Linked DNA regions of Homo sapiens: region 2 is linked to region 1. Evidence: fine-mapped expression QTL. Tissue or cell type: whole blood. Region 1 holds a variant in brackets; the other region holds the start of a gene. All regions are shown on one strand. Distances are between the middles of the regions.

What was found. PIP is the estimated chance that this variant, and not a neighbour inherited with it, causes the effect.
Region 2: it holds the start of LINC00664, and the variant in region 1 is fine-mapped to the expression of LINC00664 in whole blood (TOPMed, PIP 0.90).

Annotation. Positions count from the first base shown.
Region 1 is chr19:21,605,028-21,612,783 of GRCh38, forward strand. The region is part of intron 3 of LOC105372323 (a long non-coding RNA gene); the gene reads left to right. Among named protein-coding and RNA genes, the nearest start is that of ZNF429, 100 kb to the left of the region's middle. The variant C/T (reference allele first, on the strand shown) is at 3,307.
Region 2 is chr19:21,479,595-21,486,857 of GRCh38, forward strand. It overlaps LINC00664 (long intergenic non-protein coding RNA 664), which reads left to right and starts at 4,121. Exons shown (of 11, transcript NR_037194.1): 1 at 4,121-4,412; 2 at 6,511-6,559.

The sequences.
Region 1 (7,756 bases):
TCCAGGGTGCAGATAAAAGCACCAGCCAGTTTTATGAAAGACTTTGTAAGGCATTTTGGTTGCACACTCCATTTAACCCTGAGGCTGCTGAAAATCAGTGCAAGGTGAATACGGCATTTGTAAGGCAGACCCAAGGAGATATCAGGCATAAATTGCAGAAGTTAGAAGCTCTGTAGGCATGAATGCTACTCAGCTTATTAAAGTGGCTACCAGGGTGTACATTAACGAGATCAGGAGGCAAAGAAGAAAGCTGATCAGAGGCTTAAGAAAGGCTAATTTACTAGCAGCAGCCCTTGTGGGAAGAGAAGCTGGCTTTGCAAAGAGGCATGGACGCAGGCGTGAACACAGTCACGGAAAAGGCTAGTCCGGACAGGAGTTTGAAAGCTGGCCAAGGCTAGAGAGAGATTTATGTGCACGGTGCAAAAGGAAAGGACACTAGAAGGATACACGTCAAAAGAATAAGGAGAATGGGCCGGGCATGGTGGCTGACGCTTGTAATCCCAGCACTTTGGGAGGCCGAGGCAGGTGGATCACGACGTCAGGAGGTCGAGACCATCCTGGCTAACACGGTGAAACCCTGTCTCTACTAAAAATACAAAAAAAAAAAAAAAAAAAAAAAAAAAAAGCCGGGCATGGTGGCAGGCACCTGTAGTCCCAGCTACTCGGGAGGCTGAGGCAGAAGAAAGGCGTGAACCCTGGAGGCGGAGCTTGCAGTGAGCTATCGCGCCACTGCACTCCAGCCTGGGTGACAGAGCAAGACTCCATCTCAAAAACATAAAAAGAATAAGGAGAATTGTCAAGGCCATGGTATGAAAAAAAAAAACCACCGGCCAAGGGCTACTGCACCCAGGAAAAACCCAAGACCCCCTGCACCTGCTGTGAAAGGCAGGATATAAAGTATCAGAAAACAGCTCAAATCTGCTCTAAAAGTGTCCAGTATTTAAGCTTTTATATAAACCAAGAGGAAAGATGGCTTAGTAGTAAACAAAAGCAGGCTGTTTGTGTACTTCCTACTCCAACAACCTGGTGTCAAATAAGAGAGTTCCTAAGGGCAGCAAGGTTCTGCCACATTTAGATCCCAAATTTCTTGCTCATGGCTAAGCCATTATACAAAGCCACAAAGAGGAGGAAAGAAAGAGCCTCTCCTCTAGGAGGCCAACCAGGAGAAGGCTTTTATTTATTTATTTTTTTTTGAAGCCACTCCACAAGTCACTCTATATTGCAAATTATACATAATAGTACACCTAATCAATATATAAATGTTATGGGTTAAACATCTACAACAAACAAAATAACATTTAACATCAAGAGAAAAGAAATGGGAAAAAAAGGTTAATGAACCAGTCCATGAAGAGCAACAGAGACAAAAAGAATCTCCTGGTCTGGGCCAGGCAGTCCAGTGGTCTTGCAAGGAACACCTTTGATGTGGGTAGAGCCTTTCGTGGCAGATGCCAGAGCCTTTCATGGCAGATGCCATGGAGCTTATCTTTTTTTTTTTTTTTTTTTTAAATTGATCATTCTTGGGTGTTTCTCGCAGAGGGGGATTTGGCAGGGTCATAGGACAATAGTGGAGGGAAGGCCAGCAGATAAACAAGTGAACAAAGGTCTCTGGTTTTCCTAGGCAGAGGACCCTGCGGCCTTCCGCAGTGTTTGTGTCCCTGGGTACTTGAGATTAGGGAGTGGTGATGACTCTTAACGAGCATGCTGCCTTCAAGCATCTGTTTAACAAAGCACATCTTGCACCACCCTTAATCCATTTAACCCTGAGTGGACACAGCACATGTTTCAGAGAGCACAGGGTTAGGGGTAAGGTCATAGATCAACAGCATCCCAAGGCAGAAGAATTTTTCTTAGTACAGAACAAAATGAAAAGTCTCCCATGTCTACTACTTTCTACACAGACACAGCAACCATCCGATTTCTCAATCTTTTCCCCACCTTTCCCCCTTTTCTATTCCACAAAACCGCCATTGTCATCATGGCCCGTTCTCAATGAGCTGTTGGGTACACCTCCCAGACGGGGTGGTGGCCGGGCAGAGGGGCTCCTCACTTCCCAGTAGAGGCGGCCGGGCAGAGGCACCCCCCACCTACCAGACGGGGCGGCTGGCCGGGCGGGGGCTGACCCCCCACCTCCCTCCCAGATGGGGCGGCTGGCCGGGCGGGGGGCTGACCCCTACCTCCCTCCCGGATGGGGTGGCTGCCGGGCGGAGACGCTCCTCACTTCCCAGACCGGGCGGCTGCCAGGCGGAGGGGCTCCTCACCTCTCAGACGGGGCGGCTGCCGGGCGGAGGGGCTCCTCACTTCTCAGACGGGGCGGCCGGGCAGAGACGCTCCTCACCTCCCAGACGGGGCGGCGGGGCAGAGGCGCTCCCCACATCTCAGACGATGGGGGGCCGGGCAGAGACGCTCCTCACTTCCTAGATGGGATGGCGGCCGGGCAGAGACGCTCCCAGGAGAAGGGGTTTAAAGAAATCAAAAAAGCTTGACTCAGGCCCCAGCTTTAGGACTGCCGGATAAACTAACTAAGCCTATCTTCTTGTATGTCCACAAGTGAAAGGGAGGCCATAAGGGTTCTAACTCAAGCCATAAGTTTATGGCATCACCCAGTGACATACTTATCCAGGCAATTAGACTTTGTGGCACTTGGATGGCCTCTTTGTTTTAAAGCTATTAAAGCACTAGCTGCCACTGCCCTACTGGTGCAAGAAGCTAATAAACTGACTTTAGAGACTGTGAATAGCCTAAACCTGGCTACATTGCTCCTCATCAAGTCAGTGCCAGGAGACCCCTTTCATTTCTGTGTCAACATGATAGATGAAGTTTTCTCAAGCCAGAGAGATTTGATAGCCCCTCAGGGAAACTGGACATTAAATATTTTACTGATGGAAGCAGTTTCATACTAAAGTTTTATGAAAGACTTTGTAAGGCATTTTGATTGTGCACTCCATTTAACCCTGAGGCTGCTGAAAATCAGTGATTTTCACTAAAATCACTAAAGGGAGTCTGCCGAGCTGGGTATGCAGTGGTGACTTTGGACTCAGTAGTAGAGGTGCAGTCTCTGCCTACAGAAACTTCTGCTTAGAAAGCAGAGCTAATATCTCTGACAAGAGCTCTCTGGCTAGCAAAAGACCAAAAGACAAATATTTACACAGATTCCAAATATGCTTCTGCCACTTTGCATGTTCATGAGGTGATTTACAAAGAAAAAAGACTTTTAACTGCTGAAAGTAAAGAAATAAAGTACAAGGAAGAAATTCTACAGCTCTTAAATGCTGTATAGGACCCAAAAGAGGTGGCAGTGATGCA[C/T]TGCAAGGGGAACCAAAAAAGGAAGAACACTAAAGGCTAAAAAAATAAAAATAAAAAAGCAGACAAAGAGGCAAAGCAGGCTGCAATGACAACTCCACCTTCTAAAGAGGAAGTCTTAGCTATGCTTCTCTTCCCAGAGATTCCCCTCCCGGAGATCCCAAGCTATGCTCCAAGTGAAAGGGCTTGTTTTGCCCAGAAAAATAAGAACTACACTAAAGGAAGATGGTAAAAATTCTCCAGTGGGAGGCTAGCCATACCAGAAATGGTGACCTCCAGATTTGTAAAACAATTCCACCAAAGAACTCACATAAAAAAAAAAAAACAGCACTAAAGACATTATTAAGGCATCATTTCTATGCACCATGGCTCACTGCTATTACTCAAGCCATTTGTAAACAAACAGTGTTTAACTTGCACTCAGAACAATCCATGACAAGGAGGGCCTACTCCGCCCCTGGGAGTTCAGGAAACAGGAGCCAGGGAGCCGTGCCCTGTGAAAAACTGCTTATAGACTTCACCTAATTGCCCTGAGAGGGAGGGCTATCAGTACATGTTGGTGTTCATTTGCACCTTTTCAGGATAAGTCAAGGCCTTCCTCACCCAGACAGGGAAGGCACTAGAGGTGACCAAGGTGTTGTTAAAAGACATTATTCCCAGATTTGGACTGTCTCTAACTCTAAGATCAAACAATGGACCAACATTTGTGGCTGAAATAGTTCAGGACTTTACTTGACTATTAAAATAAAGTGGAAATTACATACAGCCTACAGGCCGCAGAGCTCAGGTAAAGTGGAGTGCATAAACCAGACACTCAAACAGCTGCTGAAGAAATTTTGTCAAACTCATCAAAAGTAGGATCAGGTCTTGTCTGTTGTCCTCCTCCGAGTCAGGTGCACTCCCACCAAACAACTGGGTATTCGCCCTGTAAGATTTTATTCAGCCAGCCACCCCCCATCATAAGTCAGATTAAAGGTAATCTCTGTAAACTAGAAGAACTAACTTTAAGAAGGCAAATTCAGGCTTTAAGTATGGCCATGCAAAAATGCATGGCTAGGTATAGAAAAAAAATGCCTATAAGTCAAACAGACCCAGTACACCCTTTCAAACCTAAGGATTTTGTTTAAGTTAAAAAATGGAGGCAGGGTGTGGTGGCTCACGCCTGTAATCCAAGCATTTTGGGAGGCCAAGGCAGGTGGATCACATGGTCAGGAGATCGAGACCATCCTGGCTAACACGGTGAAAACCCATCTCTACTAAAAATACAAAAAATTAGCCCGGCATGATGGCGGGCCCCTGTAGTCCCAGCTACTCAGGAGTCTGAGGCAGGAGAATGGCGTGAACCCAGGAGGTGGAGCTTGCAGTGAGCTGAGATTGCGCCACTGCACTCCAGCCTCGGCGACAGAGCGAGACTCCATCTCAAAAAAAAAAAAAAAGGAAAAAAAATGGAATCCAACCACACTAGGACCCATATAGGATAGGCCCCATATCGTGATCATGCCTAGTCCCACTGCTGTTAAAGTTGCACGTTTCACACCTTGGATTCACCATAGTCGGCTGAAACCAGTGGCAGCAGTGACTCCCAACGACGAACAGTGGATTAGCCAACAAGACCCAGATTGCCCCACCCGAATAGTCCCATGGTGAAACCCAACCACCGGTAAGAAGGACAACTGCCCTGCTCTGACCACACTGGAGGCTGGTCAGTCTATGCACGGCTGAAGCTTGAGGATCCTGTAAGCTCTGCTCTAGTCACATCCTGGAAGCTGACTAGTCTACGCACAGCCAAAGCTAAGGGGACAATCTCCGGATAAGTAAATGTGGATACAATTTATAAGCCTAGTTATAATTCTGTCAATACTGATTGTTCTGTTGTTATGTTATTACTGCAAATACTGCAAACGTCTATGCCCAGAGGAAGGTTTGCCATGCCCATGTGTAGTGTAAGCATGTTTCTATTACATACACTGACGTTGTTACCATTTCTGCCTATACTAGAAGGGGAGAAATCCCTAGAAGAATGCCCACACTGTGTACACACTACCTGGATAAGGAATACCCTAGTTAAACCTCTACTGTACGTTACTGACTATGAATGTACAGGAACAAAGTTAGGAACCTGCACATACAACCGGAAACAGTCTGCAATAGTTTAACACAAGAGAGACTTAGCAGCAACAGTCCTAAACATCTGTACAGAAAACCACAAATCAGATGTCGAGACTGAACATTCAGTGGTCTATGCTAACACAGCTCCAACACTTACATTCAGGAAGGACTGCTCTGCTAATTAGTATGTCAACCAAACCAGATTGTAAGACAAGAACATACAATCCTTTAAATTTTACTATCTTAAAGCCAGAGCTACCTTCTTGGTCTACAGGACAGATGACACTATTATGAGTTGATAGACAAGGAGCAGAACTTGGAGTTCCACTACTAATTGTCAAAAAGACTAGAAGGACTCAAATGTATCCAACCCCACAATTCCAGGTCCATAAGTCATTCTATAAGCATTTTGATCAGTCAATGCTGAAGCTTCCCCCCATCAACCAAAAACTTATTTGCTCAACTAGCTGAAAACATAGCTGGCAGCTTAGGAATTTCCTCATGCTATGTATGTAGAAGAACTAATATGGAAGACCAGTGGCCATGGGAGGCAAAGGAATTAATGCCACAAGATCCCTTCACTTAACACTGCCAGTGAACCAACAGCCTCAGCCAGTGTTTGGTTGTCAACTACCTCCATAATTGGAAAGTACTGTATCACCCGATGAGGAAAGGCTTTCACAGAGGCAGTGTGAGAAACAACCTGCCTAGGGCAACAGTATTGTGATGAGACTAAAAACAAAACTCTATGGAGATCCAAACCCTTTCTCTCAATTCTCTACTCTAAGCCACACTTGGCATCAGCTAGAGGCTCCAAATTCTTGAAAGGCACCCTCTGGCCTATATTGGATCTGTGGAGCACAGGCATATCAGCAACTGCCAGCTAAATGGACAGGGGCATGTGCGTTAGGAACAATCAAGCCATCATTCTTTCTAATTCCTCTAAAGCAAGAGGAACTCTTAGGGTATCCAGTTTATGATAAAAATAAAAAAACAACTAGAAGCATAATAACAAAAAGAGACACAAATATCAAAAAAGATGTGGACATAGGAAACTAGAAAGATAATAAATGGCCTCCTGAAAGAATCATTAAATGTTATGGGCCAGCTACCTAGGCGCAAGATGGGTCATGGAGGTACCGTACCCCAATCTATATGCTCAACCGCATCATAAGGTTGCAGGCAGTCCTTGAAATTATAACCAATGAAACCTCAAGGGCACTAGATTTATTGGCAATACAAGCAACACAAATGAGGCATGCCATATATCAAAATAGGCTGGGTTTAGATTACCTATTAGCCTCAGAAGGAGGAGTATGTGAAAATTTTAATTTAACCAACTGTTGCCTAGAAATTGATGATAATGACCGAGCTGTCATGGAAATCACAGCTAGAATGCACGAGTTCACCTATGTTCCAGTTCAAACTTGATCTGGGTGGTCCCTGGATTCCTTGTTTGGAGGATGGTTCTCAACCTTAAAAAAAAAAAAATTAAAACCCTCATTGGTGGGTTCTTGCTTATTTTTGGCATCTGCCTCATCCTCCCTTGCCTTTTACCTCTGTTTATTAGGAGTATTCAGTCAACTATAGAGGCAATAGTAACCAAAAAAACTACCGTGCAGTTGATGGCATTAACAAGATTATCAGCCACTGCCAGTAGAAGAAGAAGCACAGCCCTGTGAAGAGGTGACAGATAGTGGTGCTTTCTGTTAACATCTTTGTTATAAAAAGCACCAAAGGGAGGAATGGAACAGGAATAAAAAGAAATTAAAGAATGTGTAAACAGAAACTCGGTTGTATGTATGAGAAAGAGAAAGAGCTGGAGTCCTTTAAAAATTAACTGCCTGTTTTTCTGTGGCTAGTGAGCCTTATCTCTTCTTTCCCAGGCATTGTGAAGACTCTGTTTCTCTAGCTGTGCAGCTGCAAGATCACTAGACAGATCAACTCAAGTCATAAAACATGTTTTTCCTTGAAAAGTAAGAAATGATGTAATGCATGTTTCAATTAATTGAATAACTCTCTTTGTTTCTCACTTCTGTAATATGCTTCCCCCTGCACAGATCTCCCCCTGCCCCACAAAATGCTTAAAAGGTGACTTAGCTCTTTGTTCAGGGCTCAGTCCTTTGGATGTAAATCTGACTGGGTCGGTGCACCTAAATAATAAATATCCTCCTCAATCCCTCAGTATCTCTGATTCCTTAAAATATCCCACTACAGAACTCCTGATCTCAGGTGATCTGCCTGCCTCAACCTCCAAAAGTGCTGGGATTACAGGCATGAGCCATTGCATGTGGCCTAAAAAATAATTTCTTTAAAATGGTATACTCTGCATCAACATTGACAC
Region 2 (7,263 bases), 130 kb before region 1:
AGATTGCCTTGGCTATTCAGGCTTTTTTGGTTTCATATAAATTTTGAAATAATTACTTTAAATTCTATGAGAATGTCAGCGGTTGTTTATTGGGAATAGCATTGAATATATAAATTGCTTTTGGCAGTATGGACATTTTAATGATATTGATTCTTTCTATTCATGAGCATGGAATGTGTTTTGTTTGTGTCATTTCTGATTTCTTTGAGCAGCAGTTTGTAGTTCTCCTTGAGATCTTTCACCTCCCTAGTTAGGTGTATTCCTAGATATTTTATTCTTTTTGTGGCAACTGTGAATGTGAGTTTGTTCATGATTTGGCTCTCGGCTTGAGTGTTGTTTGTGTATAGGAATGCTGGTAATTTTTGCACATTGATTTTGCATTCTGAGACTTTGCCAAAGTTGTTTATCAGCTTAAGGAGCTTTTGAGCTGAGACTATGGGGTTTTCTATATATAGGATCATGTAATCTGCAAACAAGAATAGTTTGATTTCCTTTCTTCGTATTTGGATGCCCTTTCTTTCTTTCTCTTGCCTGATTACCCAGACCAGAACTTCCAGTACTATGTTGAATAGGAATGATGAGAGACGACATTCTTGTCTCATTCTGGTTTTCAAGGAGAATGCTTCTAGCTTTCGCCCATTCAGTATAATGTTGGCTGTGGGTATGTCATAGATGGCTCTTATCATTTTGAGGTGTCTTTTTTTTCTATACCTAGTTTATTGAGAGTTTTTAACATGAATAGATGTTGAACTGTAATGAAAGTCTTTTCTGCATCTATTGAAATAATCATGTGGTTTTTGCCCCTAGTTCTGTTTCTGTAATGAATCATATTTATTGATTTGGATATGTTGAACCAAACTTGCATCCCAGAGATGAAGCCTACCTGATCATGGTGGATAAGTTTTTTGATTTGCTGCTGAATTTACTTTGCTAGTATTTTGTTGAAGATTTTTACATCAATGTTCATCAAGGATGTTGACATGAAGCTTTCTTTTTTGTTGTATCTTTTTCAGGTTTTCATGTCAAGATGGTTGGTCCTGGCCTCATAGAATGAGTTTAGGGAGAGTCCCTTCTCCTACATTTTTTGGAATAGTTTCAGTAGGAACAGTACCAGCTCTTCTTTGTACATCTGGGAGAATTCAGCTGTGAGTCCACCTGGTCCTGGACTTTTATTGATTGGTAGGCTATTTATTACTGCCTCAATTTCAGAACTCACTATTGTTCTGTTCAGGGATTCAGTTTCTTCCTGGTTCAGTCTTGATAGGGTGTATGCTTCCAGAAATTTTTCCATTTCTTCTAGATTTTCTAGTTCATGTGCATCGACTTGTTCATAATATTCTCTGATGGTTCTCTTCTCTGAGGTCAGTGGTAATATCCCCCTTATTGTTTCTGATTATGTTTATTTGAATCTTCTCTCTCTTCTTATTAGTCTAGCTAGTGGTCTTTTTAGTTATTTTTTCCAAAAAAATACTTCCTGGATTTGTTGGTCTTTTGAATGTGTTTTCATGTCACTGTCTTGTTCAGTGCAGCTCTGATTTTGATTATTTCTTGTTTTCTTCTAGCTTTGGGATTTGTTTGCTTTTGGTTTTCTAGTTCTTTTATTTATTTATTTTATTGTATTTATTTATTTTTTGAGATGGAGTCTCGCTCTGTTGCCCAGGCTGGAGTGCAGTGGTGCAATCTCGGCTCACTGCAACCTCCGCCTCCTAGGTTAAAGCGATTCTCCTGCCTCAGTTTCCCAAGTAGCTGGGATGGACTACAGGGATGTGCCACCACACCTGGCTAATTTTTTGTATTTTTAGTAGAGATGGGGTTTCACCATGTTAGCCAGGATGGTCTCGATCTCCTGACCTTGTGATCCGCCCGCCTCGGCCTCCCAAAGTGCTAGGTTTACAGGCGTGAGCCACCGTGCCTGGCCTTGTTCTCTAGATCTTTTAGTTGTGATGTTATGTTGTTAACTTGAGATCTTCCTAACTTTTTGATGTGAGGCTTTAGTGTCAGAATGTAGTGAGATCAGATGTATTAAGTAAGGCCAGGCGTGGTGGCCGATTCCTGCAATCCCTACACTTCTGGAGGCCAACACGGGAGAATCACTTGAGCCCAGGAGTTTGAGACCAGACTGGGAAACATGTGGAAAACTTGTCTGTACCGAAAATACAAAAATTAGCCAGGTGTGCCAGCACACACCTGTGATTTCAGCTACTTGGGAGGCTGAGGTGGGAGGATCATCTAAGTCTGGGGAGGTTGAGGCTGCAGTAAGCCATGATGGTGCCACTGCACTCCAGCCTGGGTGACAGAGTGAGACCCTGTCAAAAACAAACAAGCAAGCAACAGATATTTTATGCCCTTCTCTGGGTAGGAAGCAAAATGAACAGAACTCAGCATTTTAAAATTTAAATTTTATTTTTGAATTTTAATCTATTTATTTATGTATTTTGAGATCAGGTTATGAAACTGGCTAATTTTTGTATTTTGGGTTGAGATGATGTTTTACCATGTTGCCCAGGATGGTCTCGAACTCCTGGGATGAAGCGATGCACCTGCCTTGGCCTCCTAAAGTACTGGGATTACAGGCGTGATTCATTGCCAGGTTGCAATTTTTTTTTTAATCTCTTGTCTTTCTGAGAGTTTCGTGGCAGAGAGTTTGGTTCATTTAAGTTCATTCTAAATAGACATTTAGGACGTTAACTTCTGGCCTCATGGACTCTGAGGTTACAAGTCCCCTGGTCTATCACAGGACCATACACATAAGAAATAAAAAAAAATCGGCTGGGCGTGGTGGCTCACGCCTGTAATCCCAACACTTTGGGAGACTGAGGCGGCTGGATCACCTGAGGTCAGGAGTTTGAGACCAGCCTGGCCAACATGGCGAAACCCCGTGTCTACTAACAATAAAAAATTAGCCGGGCGAGGTGGTGCGTGCCTGTAATACCAGTTCCTCAGGAGGTTGAGGTACTAGAATCGCTTGAACCCGGGAGGCGGAGATGGCAGTGAGCCAAGATTGCCCCACTGCACTCTAGCCTGGGTGACAAAGCAAGACTCCGTCTCAAAAAAAAAAAAAAAAGACTCCAATCAAAAAGCAAATAAGTAAATAAACAAACATAACGTTTATAATAAGTAATTGTGTTACAAAGAAATATAGTTATGTCCCCTAAACCAAGGTCTCACAGAAAAGGAAGCCTGTGCACAGACTGGGTCAACTGTGTCTTCTCTACTGTCCCTACCTCAAAGTTGGCTTCTTCCTTGTTGCCTAGAAAATCGTCGCCCTGACTGGGTATGATTGTTCTTTGATCAGTATATGCATATATATGTATTTTTTCATTCTTTCCTGGCTGATTATTGCGTGGGTGGTTGTTTGGCGCCTCCTAGCGGCCGGCTAGCAGTACAGGCCTCCTCCAGAGGCCGCTTGGGCTGACGGCACGGCTTGTGGCCCACAGGGGCGGCCACCTTTCTAGAGTTCTCTTGTCCTCTGGAGCTCCAGTGGCAGCTGCCGAGGGAGGGACAGCCCCCGCTGTGAGCTGAGCAGAGCTCGGGAGTCCTGCAGACTTCAGCAGAACAGTCCCGATGGTGCCAGAGCTCTGGCGCGTCCCTTGTGAGTCATAGCTCTGGCGTGTAGGGCTGTGGAGGGGAGGCTGTTACCGTGCTCCCGGCATGAGCTTAGTGTGGGGCTGCCCGGGCTGGTCCCCAGCTCACCGCAGCTGCGGAGGCCCGACCCTCGGAACCCACCAGGCATGATGCAGGGGGCCGGGGACACCCCCCAGGCCCGGTTGCGGGCCCATGTGTGTCCTGGCCGTTTGAGGCTCTGGCCGATTTCTTTTCCCAAGTCCCCATGGAGAATCAGGGACCGTCCTGTGCCATCTTCCGAGAGCCTGGAAGGGTCCGCCCGTGGGCTTTCCGAGCGCCGAAGGGGCCACATGCTGCTCTGAGGGTGCCGCAGGTTCGTGGGGCTCCCTTGCTTGGTGTCCACCCCCTCTGGTTTCCTCCTCTTCCCACCCTGCGGGTGGCTCGTCGCCCTGGCTGGGACGCCGCTGTGGGAGCGTGGTGGGATGGCTGAGGCGCGGGCGTCAGAGGGTGTGGCCCGGCAGCCCCCGTTTCAGGGGTGGCTGTGTGGTCTGGAAGTGGCGGTCCAGGTCCTGGGCCTCTCCCACTCAGCAGCGGGGAGGAGGGGTCGGCGGGGAGTAGGGGCCGGTCGCCCCCCCTTGAGCTCTTCCCCGTCTTAGTGGACCAGCAGACAGTGTGGGAGAGCGCTGGGAAGGAAGGTTGGCGGAGTTATACTCCAGACGGACGGGCTCAGGCCCCGCGCGCCACACTCGGCCACACTTGGCGCGTAGTGTGGACCCGGTGGGCCTCTGCCCTCGCCACCGGCTGGCTTCTCTGTCCAGCCGCTGGGTCGACCAGATGTCAGCCCCAAGGTTAGGGTTTGGCCTCCAGCTTGAGATGTTTAAGACGGACTAGATAGCTCTCGCCCGCGGCAGTACCGCTTAGGTCCAGCAGAGGGTGCGATTACGGCTCACGCGCCCTCCACCTGCCCGGACTCACCCAGGTCATCCTCCCTTTTCTTTTTTCTTTTCTTTTCTCTCTTCTCTTCTCTTCTCTTCTCTTCTCTTCTCTTCTCTTCTCTTCTCTTCTCTTCTCTTCTCTTCTCTTCTCTTTCTCTTTCTGTCTGTTTTTCTTTCTTTGAGTTTTCGCTCTTGTTGCCCAGGCTGGGGTGCAATGGGGCAATCTCGGCTTACTGCAACCTCCACCTCCCGAGTTCAAGCGATTCTCCCGCCTCAGCCTCCTGAGTAGCTGGGATTACAGGCGTGCGCCACCACACCCAGCTAATTTTGTATTTGTAGTAGAGATGGGGTCTCCATGTTGGTCAGGCTGGTCTGGAACTCCCGACCTCAGGTGATTCGTCCACCTTGGCCTCCCAAAGCACTGGGATTACAGGTGTGAGCCACCATGCCCGGCCCCATCCTCCTGTTTCTGCCTCCAGAGTAGCTGAGGCTCGGGATCTTTCTGGGTTTTTTTTTCTTTTTTTCTAGCCCCACTTTGAGTTTGTTTCCACGGTACATTGAGTTACTATTGTTTTGTTTTGTTTTGTTTTCTCTCTTAAGCACCTTCCTGCACACTGAAGTTGCTGTTTTAAATTTCTTCTTTCATACGTGTGTGTGTGTGTGTGTGTGTGTGTATGTTTTTTTAAATGAGGTCTTCTTAGTCACCCAGGCTGAAGTGCAGGTGTGTGATCACAGCTCACTGCAGCCTGGACCTCCTTGGGCTCAGGGGATCCTCCGTCTTAGTTCTCCCAGTAGCTGGTACTACAGTCACGTACCACCACACTGGCTCTTTATTTTGCATTTTTTACTTTTTATTTTTGTAGAAATGAGGTTCTGCCATGTTTCTCAGACTGGTCTCGAACTCCTGTGATCAAGCAATCCACCAGCCTTGACCTCCCAAAGTGCTGGGATTACAGGCATGCACCATCCTGCCTGGCTGGCTGGCTATCTATCTATCTATCTGTCTATCATCTCTCTCTGTCTGTCCAGCTCTGTCTATCTGGCTGGCTCTGTCTCTGTCTTTCTGATCTATCTATCTATCATCTTTTTTTTTTTTTTTTTTTTTTTTTTGAGACAATCTCACACTGTCACCCAGGCTGGAGTGCAGTGGCATGATCTCAGCTCACTGCAACCTCCACCTCCTGGGTTCAAGTGATTCTCCTGCCTCAGCCTCCCGAGTAGCTGGGACTACAGGTGTGCGCCACCACGCCCAGCTAATTTTTGTGTTTTTAGTAGAGATGGGGTTTTACAATGTTGGCCAGGATGATCTCGATCTCTTGACCTTGTGATCCGCCCACCTCAGCCTCCCAAAGTTCTGGGATTACAGGCGTGAGCCACTGGCACCCAGCCTGTATCATCTTTTTAGTAGAGATGTGATCTTGCTATGTTGTCCATGCTCTGGATATATATTTCTTTTTTAACTTTAATTATTATTTTTTAATAGAGATGCTGTCTCACCATGTTGGCCCCGGATAGTCTTGGACTCCTGGGTTCCAGGTATCCTCCGTGGCCTCCAAAAGTGCTGGGATTACAGGTGTGAGCCACTGTGCACGGTCTGGTCATGTTTTTGATGTGTTGATTCTTTCCAGTCCAGATGCATAATCTCATGTCTGAACATTCCTGCTGGTGTCATTATGACATATGACTTTACCCAGCACCAGAGTGATTTGGTGCCCCTGCCCTGGCCTAGCCCATGGAAGGGATTGTGACATATCCCTGGACCCAGTACCGAGGTGGTGTGACTATTCTACTGCCTTGGCACTACCCACAGGGGACATTTTGACATCACTACATCTTGTACCCAGGTGGTGTGAATCTTCTCTCCAGCCTTGGCTCTTCCACAGGGGACATTGTGTCATATGGCTGGGCCCCACACATAGGTTATATGACTCTCCTGCCTGTGCCCTGCCCATGTGGGCCACTGTGACTTTTGCTGAGTCCAACACCCAGGTGATGTAACTCTACTGCCTAGGTCCTGCCTACAGAAGATCTTGTGACATATCCCTGCACCCATCACACAGGTAATATGGCTCTCTTCTCCTGCCTGGCTCCTGCTTACAGAAGGGATTGTGATGTATTACTGGGCTCAGCACCTAGCTCACATGACTCTCTGCCTCTTTCTTTCTAGGTTCTGCCCAAAGAGGATATTGTGACATGTCACTGGGCCTAATACTATGCTGACATACTCTTTTTTTTTTTTTTTTTTTTTTTTATTGATCATTCTTGGGTGTTTCTCGCAGAGGGGGATTTGGCAGGGTCATAGGACAATAGTGGAGGGAAGGTCAGCAGATAAACAAGTGAACAAAGGTCTCTGGTTTTCCTAGGCAGAGGACCCTGTGGCCTTCCGCAGTGTTTGTGTCCCTGGGTACTTGAGATTAGGGAGTGGTGATGACTCTTAACGAGCATGCTGCCTTCAAGCATCTGTTTAACAAAGCACATCTTGCACCGCCCTTAATCCATTTAACCCTGAGTGGACACAGCACATGTTTCAGAGAGCACAGAGTTGGGGGTAAGGTCATAGATCAACAGGATCCCAAGGCAGAAGAATTTTTCTTAGTACAGAGCAAAATGAAAAGTCTCCCATGTCTAATTCTTTCTACACAGACACAGCAACCATCTGATTTCTCAATCTTTTCCCCACCTTTCCCCCTTTTCTATTCCACAAAACCGCCATTGTCGTCATGGCCCATTCTCAATGAGCTGTTGGGTACACCTCCCAGACGGG